Linked DNA regions of Homo sapiens: region 2 is linked to region 1. A link means that fine-mapping ties the variant in region 1 to the expression of a gene that starts in the linked region. Tissue or cell type: whole blood. Region 1 holds a variant in brackets; the other region holds the start of a gene. All regions are shown on one strand. Distances are between the middles of the regions.

Region 1 (5,382 bases):
TAGGTCACCCAGTGTGATCAGATATTCTTACCTAGAAAAGCTGAAATAATCCGAAGTTTACTACGTGTTTATGGAAACATGACAGCATTTCCTGGGAGCTGCTTATATCATGAACAAACAGTAGGTACTGTACATAATAGGCACTTGTTCTGTCCGCCTCCCCATCTCAGAATTAGACTGGAGACAGCTCTTCTCTCTCAGCCTCATCTGTAAAGGGAATTCCAGCCTATCTCATAGGTAATTATGAAGATTATATGAGATAATGTAAGTAAAGTGCCTGGTACATAGAAAATGTTCAGGCCGGGCGTGATGGCTCACACCTGTAATCCCAGCACTTTGGGAGGCCGAGGCAGGGGGATCATGAGATCAGGAGTTCGAGACCAGCCTGACCAACATGGTGAAACCATGTCTCTACTAAAAATACAAAAAAAATTAGCTGGGCTGGTGGCGTGCACCTGTAATCCCAGCTGCTCAGGAGGCTGAGGAAGGAGAATTACTTGAACCCGGGAGGTGGAGGTTGCAGCAAGCCGAGATTGTGCCATTGCACGCCAGCATGGGTGACAGAGCGAGACTCCATCTCAAAAAAAAAAAAAAAGTTCAATATATACTAGCTATTCTTATTTACACTTTGATGACCACAAATTACAATCAGCTGAATGGTAAGCATGTCCCTAAAAACAATACTTTTAATGCTCTTCTAGCACAGAATAATAAGTTTTTCTTGTTTGCTTGTTTTGTGTGAACTATTACATGATCAATGTAATTTAAACTTGGCCTGAGAAAACCATCCTTTTTCTCTTTCTTTTTTTTTTTTTTATTTTTGAGATGGAGTCTCGCGCTGTCACCCAGGCTGGAGTACAGTGGCGCGATCTCGGCTCACTGCGAACTCCGCCTCCCGGGTTCACACCATTCTCCTGCCTCAGCCTCCTGAGTAGCTGGGACTACAGGCACCTGCCACCACGCCTGGCTAATTTTTTGTATTTTTAGTAGAGACGGGGTTTCTCCATGTTAGCCGGGATGGTCTCGATCTCCTGACCTCGTGATCCACCTGCCTCAGTCTCACAAAGTGCTGAGATTATAGGCATCAGCCACCGCGCCCGGCCATCCTGTCTTTTTCTCAACTTCCCAACCAAGGTTAGCACAATCATGTTAAACAACTAAAAAATAGATTATAATTCTTTAACTATAATTCTATTAACATGAGACTGTTAACACCAATTCTGGCTAAAGACTACCAAGCAACACAGAAATTTCCAAGCCGGACAATTATTCTGCAAGAGTTATTCAGGCATGGGTCTGTTGTTTTAAGTGTCTATATCCTTTAAGTATAATATATTTATATTTCCCTTTATGAAATTTAACTAAAATCATTAAATTTGGCAGCAGAAGCAGGAAACCATCTACAAGACCTGCATGGCTACTTTACTTTTATTAATGAAAAGTTACATAAGAGTTTCAGCAAACTACAAAGTTTCCTTCTTATAAGTCTTTTAATATTTATAGAAATTTAAAATAGTTATCATGCTAGAGTCCATTTTAGAAACTGAGAATTTCTATTATCTGACAGCAATAGATTCTGTATTATTTTAGCTCAATTACAGAAATGGATATGTAAGAATTATATTCATCTTTATTCGTACTTGTTAACAATACATCTACCATGTCTACTACTTGACCTAGAAGCTCAAGTAGTGTGACTGAACAAAACTACACTAACAGGGTCTCAACCCCAAACCACTGAGTCACATTATTGGACTTTTTTCTCTAAACAATACACTAAAGAAAAGAAAAAGAAGTGTACTGGGAACCATTTAAAGGGCCTGCTTGGAATAACAGAAAAAGTTACACAAAAGGACCAAAGAACACAAGTGGCTTAAAGTATCAAAGAGAAAGCCTGTAACCAAGTACGAGGAGATGTCCGCAAACACCATGCCCATTGTATCAGTCCTTTCTTGCGCTGTTATAAAGAACTATCTGAGACTGGGTAATTTATAAAGAAAAGAGGTTTAGTTGGTTCATGGTTCCTC[G/A]AGCTGCACAGGAAGCATGGTTGGGGAGGCCTCAAGAAACTTTCAACCACAGCGGAAGGCAAAGGGGAAGCAGGTACATCTTACATGGCTGAAGAGGAATAGTGTGAAGGGGGAGGTGTTACACACTTTTAAACAACCGGATCTCATGAGAACTCACTCACTATCACAAGAACAGCAAGAAGGAAATTCGCCCTCATGATCCAATCACCTCCCATCAGGCCCCTCCTCCAACATTGGAAATTACAATTTGACATGAGATTTGGGCAGGGACACAAATCCAAAGCATATCACCAATGTTAAAAAAATAAAATTGCATACTTCCTATAAACTGAAAAATGAAACCTATAGCCATGTATTTCCTTGAATCGTTTTTATGTAATCTGGATTTTTCAAATTATTTTTTTTATTTTTTTAAACCATGGTCCAGAAAATCTACTTCTAAACTATACATTTTGAATCAATAAACTGACTTTTGTGCTTCAAGTAAACTTATTTTGAAATAATTTTAGATTTACAAGATAGATACAAAAATAGTATAGACTTCCTATACACCCTTCATCCAGTTGTCCATAAAGTTAAACATCTTACATAACCACAGGACATTTGTCAAAACTAAGAAATTAACATTGATTAATTTCTAATTGATTACTATTAACTATAGACTTCATTTATATTTCACCTGTTTTTCTACTGTCTTTCTTTAGTTCCTAGGTATAACCCAGGGTACCATATTGCATTTAATTATTTTTTCTAATGCTCTAAATTTTGCTACATGCCATACTTCTATGTCTTATAAACAATATCTTCATTGTAATTATTATACAAATAAGCCTAAAATTCCCTGGGAAATATGATTTGTTAGCTATTAGGGAAATGTTACATGAAGATTCATGTAAATGTGATATTTCTACAAATGTTATACTGAAGAGAAAAGAGTTAATTGCTGAAGTAAGATATGCCCCACTGTCTACTTTGCCAGGAACCTATGAGATCAAATTACTTAATGTTTCAGAAATCTCTCTTCAAAAAATGCTTGTCACTTACCTATATCCCAAGGCTCCTGTAGAGTCATAAGATATACCGTAAATCCTTTTAATTAATTCTGTAACAATACAAAGTATTATTATAATCATATTCAGATAATCCATTTTCATCAAATATATGTAAAAGGTGCCTTCTTTTCAAGTTTCATTTTTAATTACTGTATATTTTTATTAAGATAATAAAAGAACTAATGTAGAAGAAAATAATTCCATAGTTGATTACATGTCTTTAGTTTAAAAATGAAAGCATGCAAAATTTAATAAAAGTTTTAAGATAAATAGAAAATGTTCCAGAAAAAAAGAAATGCCACAATGAATAAAACTGGCTAAGAAGAATGCTTCACATTCTTTTCCATGTGCATAATACTGTGGAAATTAGTAAACAGTCACAAACAAGTGATTCATATTCAGGGCGCAGCCTTTTTGACAGGAAAACAGTAATCAAGAGTTTGGGATTTGAAGATTTTTAAAAGGACACATGTCTAGTAAAGTGTGTCAGTTTGCCTGAGACAGTCCCAATTTACGGCCATTGTCCCAGTGTCCCACAAATTTACCATTTGTCCTGGATTTTTCATTTTCTAATGATTTTTTTTAATGATAGCATTAAAATATGCTAAGACTTACTTGTACTTTTAGGCTCTGCCATAATCTCATTGAGCCATGTGTGAGATGCATGTGCAATGAAGCCAGTTGTCAATTTCGCAACTTGCTTAAATCTTTAAGACACCTAGCAGTAACCCATTTCTAAATGTACTAAATGTACTGTAACTGATACTTCATTCTTAAAGACAGCACCCAGGCACCATGCAGAAAAAGTATACCTAGGCAGGAGCAGGTAGGGACAGCTAACTCCTCCAGTCTTGAATGAAGGTAGAAGAAATACTGAATACTGCTCCCTGCTCATGGCTAGCTTAAAGACACGGATTTAATGAAAGCAGACAGGACAGAGAAAGTGTTTTACGTATTATTCTCTAAAGCATGACTTTTCATCTAGATCCAATGACTTTTTAAAAAAATGCACTTAGTTCTGATTCTAAAGCGTCTCTTTTACATCATCAAAGTAAAGTGAAAACTGGTTGGCTCCATTAACAGAAAAACTCACAGTTAAATGTTGCCAGCTTTCTGTCAGCATCAGGAGATGTACCAACCAGAAAAATCAGTTAATTCCAATAATGGTTTGATGATTTCATCTAATTCATGAAACCAAAGTAAAGCTTTTGGAAGTTCATTCTGTAGAATATGAAACACTTGACATTGCTTTAATTGCTACTTAAAAATCAGTTTAGAAGTTCAACAACAAAGACAAAATTACCGTTGGTTCTCCTTATTCACAGTAGTTAAGTTCTATGAAGTCACCATGAACACTGAATTAGGGAATACCAAACTGTTTACTCATAAGGGAAATTCAGGGTTGGGTTCCTGAGAGCTCCTGAGAGCCTCTGATTACATTTTAATTAGCTGATCAAACATAACCTCATTTTATGTATATTTCTGTTTCAAGATACCTTATTAATATATAGTCATCCACTGCATGATGTGTCAGTCAACAACAGACTGCATATATGATGGAGGTGGTCCCATAAGATTATCAAGCTATATTTTCACTGTACATTTTCTATGTTTAGATAAATAAATATTTACTATTGTGTTACAATTGCCTACGAATTCAGTATAGTAACACACTGTACAGGTTTGTAGCCCAGGAACAAGAGGCTATACCAAATAGCCTACGTGTATAGTAAGCTATAGATTCATATCAGTACACTCTATGATACTTTCACAATGACAAAATCACCTAATGATACATTTCTCAGAATTTAACCCTGTTGTTAAGCAATGTATGGCTGTTCACTGTTGAGTCACTAACACTGAACTCATAGCCAACAGCACTATAAGTTTATCTATCACATGCATTTTCTCCTTAAGGCACATCACAGCCTTCTTGCACTTAGGCGCAATATACAGCACTTCAGTTCCACACTGGGTAGTCATTTTAAACACAGAAATCATAAGCCTAAAAAAGCAAAAATCATGGCACTATATAAACCACAAAAAGGAGACTTGTTTACCGTATGAGAGCTGAAGGAAATCAGCTTGTCAACTAGGAATGTGTTGAGCAATCCAAATTTTTCACCATTCTGTACCATTTGCAGTCATGCACTCAGTTGAATGCCTAGTGTCATGAGTATTGATTTTGCAGTTACAAATAAATTTTATAGGTTCAGTATCCCTTACCCTGAAATGTTTGGGGTCGGAAGTGTTTTGAATTCAGAGTTTTTAAAAATTTTGAAACATTTGCATTATATACTTAT
Region 2 (5,382 bases), 48 kb after region 1:
AGAGACAGACCTTGCCCCTACGGAACCTACAGTGGGGAATACCAGATACTGGCTGCATGAACCCAGTCAGGTCGTAATCAAAGACCAGTTAGCACAGTCCCACTGCCTATAATCTTTCTCCCACAGACAACCAAAGCTTAGATGAAAAACAAAAGCATGCTTTCTCTTCAGAAAAATAAATGGGTATCTCCAACCCTGACCACTCCCCTGAGTTCCATATTCACAGGCATGCATACTCAACATGTTCACTCGGAGGTGGTTACAGGGATTCAATGCATGGACTCCAAAGCCACAATGCTTAGGTTTGAATCCTAGCTACATCACTCACCAGCTGGGTGACTTCAGACAAGTCACTTATAACCTCTTTTTGCCTCTATTTTCTCGTGCTGTAAAATGGGGACAATAATGGTTCCTTGCACATATAATTCTTATGATGATTAAATGAATTAATATAGGTTAAAGTACTTAAAACCCTGCCTGGGACTCAGTTTACGCTTACATAATACTATTTTTACTAGCACTGTTGTTATGACTATGTCTAACAGGCATTTAGAACTTGTGCAAAACTAAATTTGTAATTTTCCTCAGTAAACAGCACCACTATACTTCTAGTTGTTCCAGCCTAAACCTAAAAAATCATCACTTCTCCCTTTTCTTCAAATTCCACATCAGCTCGTTTCCCGTCAGCTCTACCTTCAAAACGTATCACCAATTCTACCGCCTACCATCATCTCCACAACTAACCTCCCCCAGCCCAAACCACCATCATTTCACCTGCAGGGCACAGCAGCTTTCTCCCGATTTTCACTCCATCCGACCCACTCTAATCTACAGTTAATTCTCCATACAATAAAACTTAAATCAGACACCAGTCCCTTGATGCAAACCTTCCAATGGTTTTCCATCACAGTTAGAACAACATCTTTACTTCACCACAGCCTACAAGGGACCCCACGGCCTGCCTGGCCCTTGACCATCATTGGCCACTACTTTCCCCGTTCCCGGCTGTGCTCTAAACACTCTCACTGTGTCTGGACCACCTCAGAGCATTGTCCTGTGCTGTTCCTGCTGTGAGGCCGAAAATACAGTCACCTGGAGCCTGGACTCTGAAGTCAGACTGCCCACGTTCAAATAGTCTCTACCACGTTTTAGCTGTGCAACTTTGGCAAATTCTTAACCTTTCTGTGTGTCAGTTGCCTCATCTATGAAAGGGAGATACTAGGTTACATCAAAAGACTTGTAAAAATTTAATTTAGTGTTCAGAATAGTGCCTTACATATGGTAAGCTCTACTTTTTTTAAGTGTTCATTGCTATTAATTATTCCTCTCTGAAATGTTCTTACCTCAGGCTCTTTCCCTCACACTTCAAGTGTCCCTGCCTTTGAATGGCTTTTCCTGACAGATCCCACCAAAAACAACCTTCCCTGTTCCCCCACTGTCCTCCTTTCTTCCTTCCCTTCACTGCACTTATGACTACCTGAAATTACATTATGCACGTATTGTTCGTTGTCTATTTCCCACTGCAATATGAGCCCTGCTAGGTTGGAGGCTGTCTTCTTTGCTGCTCTATTTCCAGAGATTTCTGACTCACATCTCATCCAGGCTAGGGGACCAATGCGAATCTCCTAATAACAATAGCACACTTAGCCTTTCATTTGCACTCTCGTGATCTCATTTGATCCTGGAAAAACCAACAAACAGATAAACCATCGGCTCTCATTTTAGATAAGAAAAACAAAGTTCCAAGTTTGCGTGACTTGTCCTTGGACACGAAGCTAGTTAACGAATAGAACAAAAATTAGAAGCCCTGCTTTCTGATTCAAAGGCTCTTCCTACCTGGATGAAAAGATATCACACTCCTGAAATGAATTTACAGAAATGTGAACTCTCGAGCTCCTGTATAAATACACCCTGAAGTGTGCACAGTATTCTTCCCTTCAAAGTTCCTGAAGACTACTAGTCCCGGAGTTTGAGAGGCATTATAGTCTAGTAATAACTAATCGATAATGTAGTACCCCTTGACCAAAATATTCAAGCAGTCAGATACGATGATTGGATATTCCAAATCGATACAGCAATCCTTAAAACTCAGTGAGTCTGTGTTGTCTATAATGTGCTAGTTCCAGCACACTGAAAGCTTCCTCTGCAAAACCCAGACAACGGGGGCATTGTAATTGCCAAGAGTACCGTGCTAACGATACCTGTTATTTCTTGGGATCCCCATTCTATCAAGTTTAGTGACAACAGTTCGATCACCCAACAGGCTCCAGTGTGGTATAGAATCAGATGGAGGGAAGGTTGTCGGGGGGAGGCAAAACAGTGAAAAAGTTCCCCTTCTACAAGATTCCTGGTCAAATAGCCAGTGGCTACCACATTCCTCAGAATAACCAAGTGTCTGTGTATAAGCTTTCTCCTAGCAAATTTACACACTTGTGTTATCTCACGTGTTCCTAGTGCTGTGGGAACAACCATTAGGGAGGCCAGAGGCTGCTGTACCTCCCTTTTACACAAAAAAGAAAACTGAGGCAGCAACTGGTTATCTTATAAATGTGTCCACGATGACTTGGTCACTTGTGGGATCCCAACGGCCAGGACATAGGATTCCTATTCTCTGAGAGGAAGCTTCCATCCCCTACTTAACATGTCAAACTCCAAGGCTGAGAGGGGGAAGAAAAGGAATCTAAGTCCCTTTATCACGGAAGAAAAAAAGGGACTCTCCATTTGGACTTTCCGCCCCTTCTAAGGCCTCGCTCCCAGGCTCGGAGACGCGCCCCGCCCCAGGGGAAAAGGTGCTGGCCCGGCCCCACGGGGCGCGGCCTCGCCTCCCGCACCCCAGGTCCCTACCGCCCAGCAGGGCGCGCTGCCACTCTGAGCAGACACCTGTCCCTTCGCCACAATCGGCGACTCCCCAAGGAACTGACGCCCCCAGAGCCACCACCACCGCCGGGACTGCCAGCTGCCAGCGGGCCCCGCAAGCCCTAGGAGCTGCAGGAATCCTCGTAAACTTACAGTTTTCCTACAGCGTGCGCGTCACAGCGGGGTGACGTCACGGGCCCAGCAGTCGGGGAGGTCAAGCCACGGGGCGCGGGCCGCTGGGCCCCCAGGCTCCGCCCTCGCCCCGCCCCGGCGCCGCGGCGGGAGACACGCCCCCGAGCTCCACGCCCTCGAGCTCCACGCACCTCCCCGTAGCAGACACCCCGCGCAGGCGCAGACGGCCTCTGCGCCCGCATGCCTGTGGGCTTCGCCGACCGGGGCGCCTGCGGCGGCGACTGCTCTACCAAAGCCTCACTCAAAGCCTGAAGTCGGGGTTAGAGGAGGAGGAGGGGCCGACAAAAGGGGACGGAGACCTTCAGAAATACTGTAAACAAGCTGTCGCCCTGGGGGCTGGAGTAAGACGCCTGGGTTGTGAGGTAGTTTTTCCACAGACATTGCCCGCCTTCCTCACGTGTTCGTTAAAAGTTCTCCACGTGTGGAAACAGCCATTTGCTCTCCATCAGGTGCTGGCGGGTCCTCAGCCCTGAAAAGACAGCTCTCCCAGGGTCCCTCGCTCCTCCCCGGCTCGACGCGGCTCCCGCTAGACTCCGCCCAGACCCCGAGCAGTCCCCGCCCATCTCTTGACTATGCCCCTCCCACGCCCACTTAGGCCTTGCCCCTGGGTCCCGCCCTTCCGGCTCCCGCCCCTGGCTCCCGGCTCCCGCGGGCCCCCACCTGCCCTTCTTGCCCTGGCGCCGCCTCCAGCCCAGCCCGTTTCTTGCAGATTTTAGCTTCTCCCTTGCCTGCCGCCTTTCCCGTTTCGGCTCGGTGAAGCTACCTATGGGTTGCTGTTCATTTAACAAACGGTGATCCGGATAAACATGTTCACTTCTTCGCCTGGGCAAACTTTCCAGCCCCCGACCCACTCATGTCACGATACCTTCCCGTGTCCAAGTCCGGCTCTCTGCTCCCCACTTTTTTTTTTTTTTTTTTTTGAGACAGAGTGTTTCTCTGTCTCCCAGGCTGGAGTGCAGTGGCGCGATCTCAACTCACAGTACCCCCTGCCTCCCGGGTTCAAACGATTTTCTTGCCTCAGCCTCCTGAGTAGCTGGGATTACAGGCGCGCGCCACCACAGCCGGCTAATTTTTATGTTTTAGTAGAGACAGGGTTTCACCATGTTGGCCAGGATGGTCTCCATCTCTTGACCTCGTGATCCGCCCGCCTCGGCCTCTCAAGGTGCTGGGATTACAGGTGTGAGCCGCCGCGCCCGGCCTCTTTGCTCTTTTATACTCTCAGAAGCAATGAGTTCTGGTTAAAAAAAAGGGCTCGATAGACGGAAAAAATGAAGGCTTAAAGAACTGACAACAAAATATTAACATTTGGCTTGTGGAATTCTTACACTCTCGTAAGCAGAAAAAACAAATGTTATGGCAAAAAAGTGTCTCAGACAAATCCGTCTTGGGGGGAAAAAAATTAAAAGAATGAGAAAAACAGACTTCGGAATAAATAGACCCAAAGGAGGAAGTATTGAAAATGGCAAGATTCACTTTTACAAACTTATTTGGAACCACGGCAGATGGCCAGGGCAGGGATTTTGCAAGGCAGCTCCAGTTGTAAGTAAAACCTGAAACAATGGTTTATTTCCACTCTCATTGAAAGTGCTGTCTTATTTTTACAGGAAAGAGTGATGATGGGAATATTAGGCTTTAATTCGAGATCTGAGCTGGTTAAAAATAAAAACGTTTATTATTCCAGAAAAATCTACGTCAGTGTTTTTAAATGTTCTGATTTGAAAAAATATTTGTATATTTTATCTGAATATTAGTTATTATCAAATGATGTAAAAGAAATTTGTAAAGGCTGTACCATAATTGTAACAATAAGGTTTTTCTGTAGAGCAGAGGTATAGAAAAATTAACATTTTTTAAAGTCCTGCATATTTTTAAAACAGTGATATTTATGTTTTTCCTTGCAAAACAATTTTAAGAAACCTTTAAATTGTTAATAGTTTACATGCTTATAAAATGTTTTATATATATCATTTCTAAAAATCGTAATTTTTTTAAGTGAGTTTCTAGGTATACCTTATGGGAGTGTTTCACAGGTACATGTCATCTGTTATTTTTTGGAGTGGAAATGGGTAAGAAGCATACACCAAATGTATCAAATGTTTTTACTATAGATACTTTTGCCTCTGAAAGATGGCATTGTAGAATATAGTCTTCTCATCGTATTGTTCAGTATACTTTCTCTTGAAATCTCAGGTATTCAAAAAAAAAAGTCGTTGTTTTGCTAGATGCAGGAAAAAAGTAAACGCAGTGAACAAAAGATGGCCAACAGTAAAGGTACCCAAGCAAGGATCACAGTCTCAAGGAATGTCAAGTAGAAATTTGTGGGAAAATACCACT

The links.
Region 2: ZNF438 starts here. The variant in region 1 is fine-mapped to the expression of ZNF438 in whole blood (TOPMed, PIP above 0.99).

What each region holds. Positions count from the first base shown.
Region 1 is chr10:30,981,298-30,986,679 of GRCh38, forward strand. ZNF438 (zinc finger protein 438) reads right to left here. Exons shown (of 7, transcript NM_001143768.2): 2 at 3,072-3,129. Among named protein-coding and RNA genes, the nearest start is that of ZNF438, 48 kb to the right of the region's middle. The variant G/A (reference allele first, on the strand shown) is at 2,028.
Region 2 is chr10:31,028,824-31,034,205 of GRCh38, forward strand. It overlaps ZNF438 (zinc finger protein 438), which reads right to left and starts at 3,042. Exons shown (of 7, transcript NM_001143768.2): 1 at 3,010-3,042. It overlaps LOC105376481 (a long non-coding RNA gene), which reads left to right and starts at 3,685. Exons shown (of 3, transcript XR_001747410.3): 1 at 3,685-5,382. RefSeq lists a silencer at 2,704-3,263.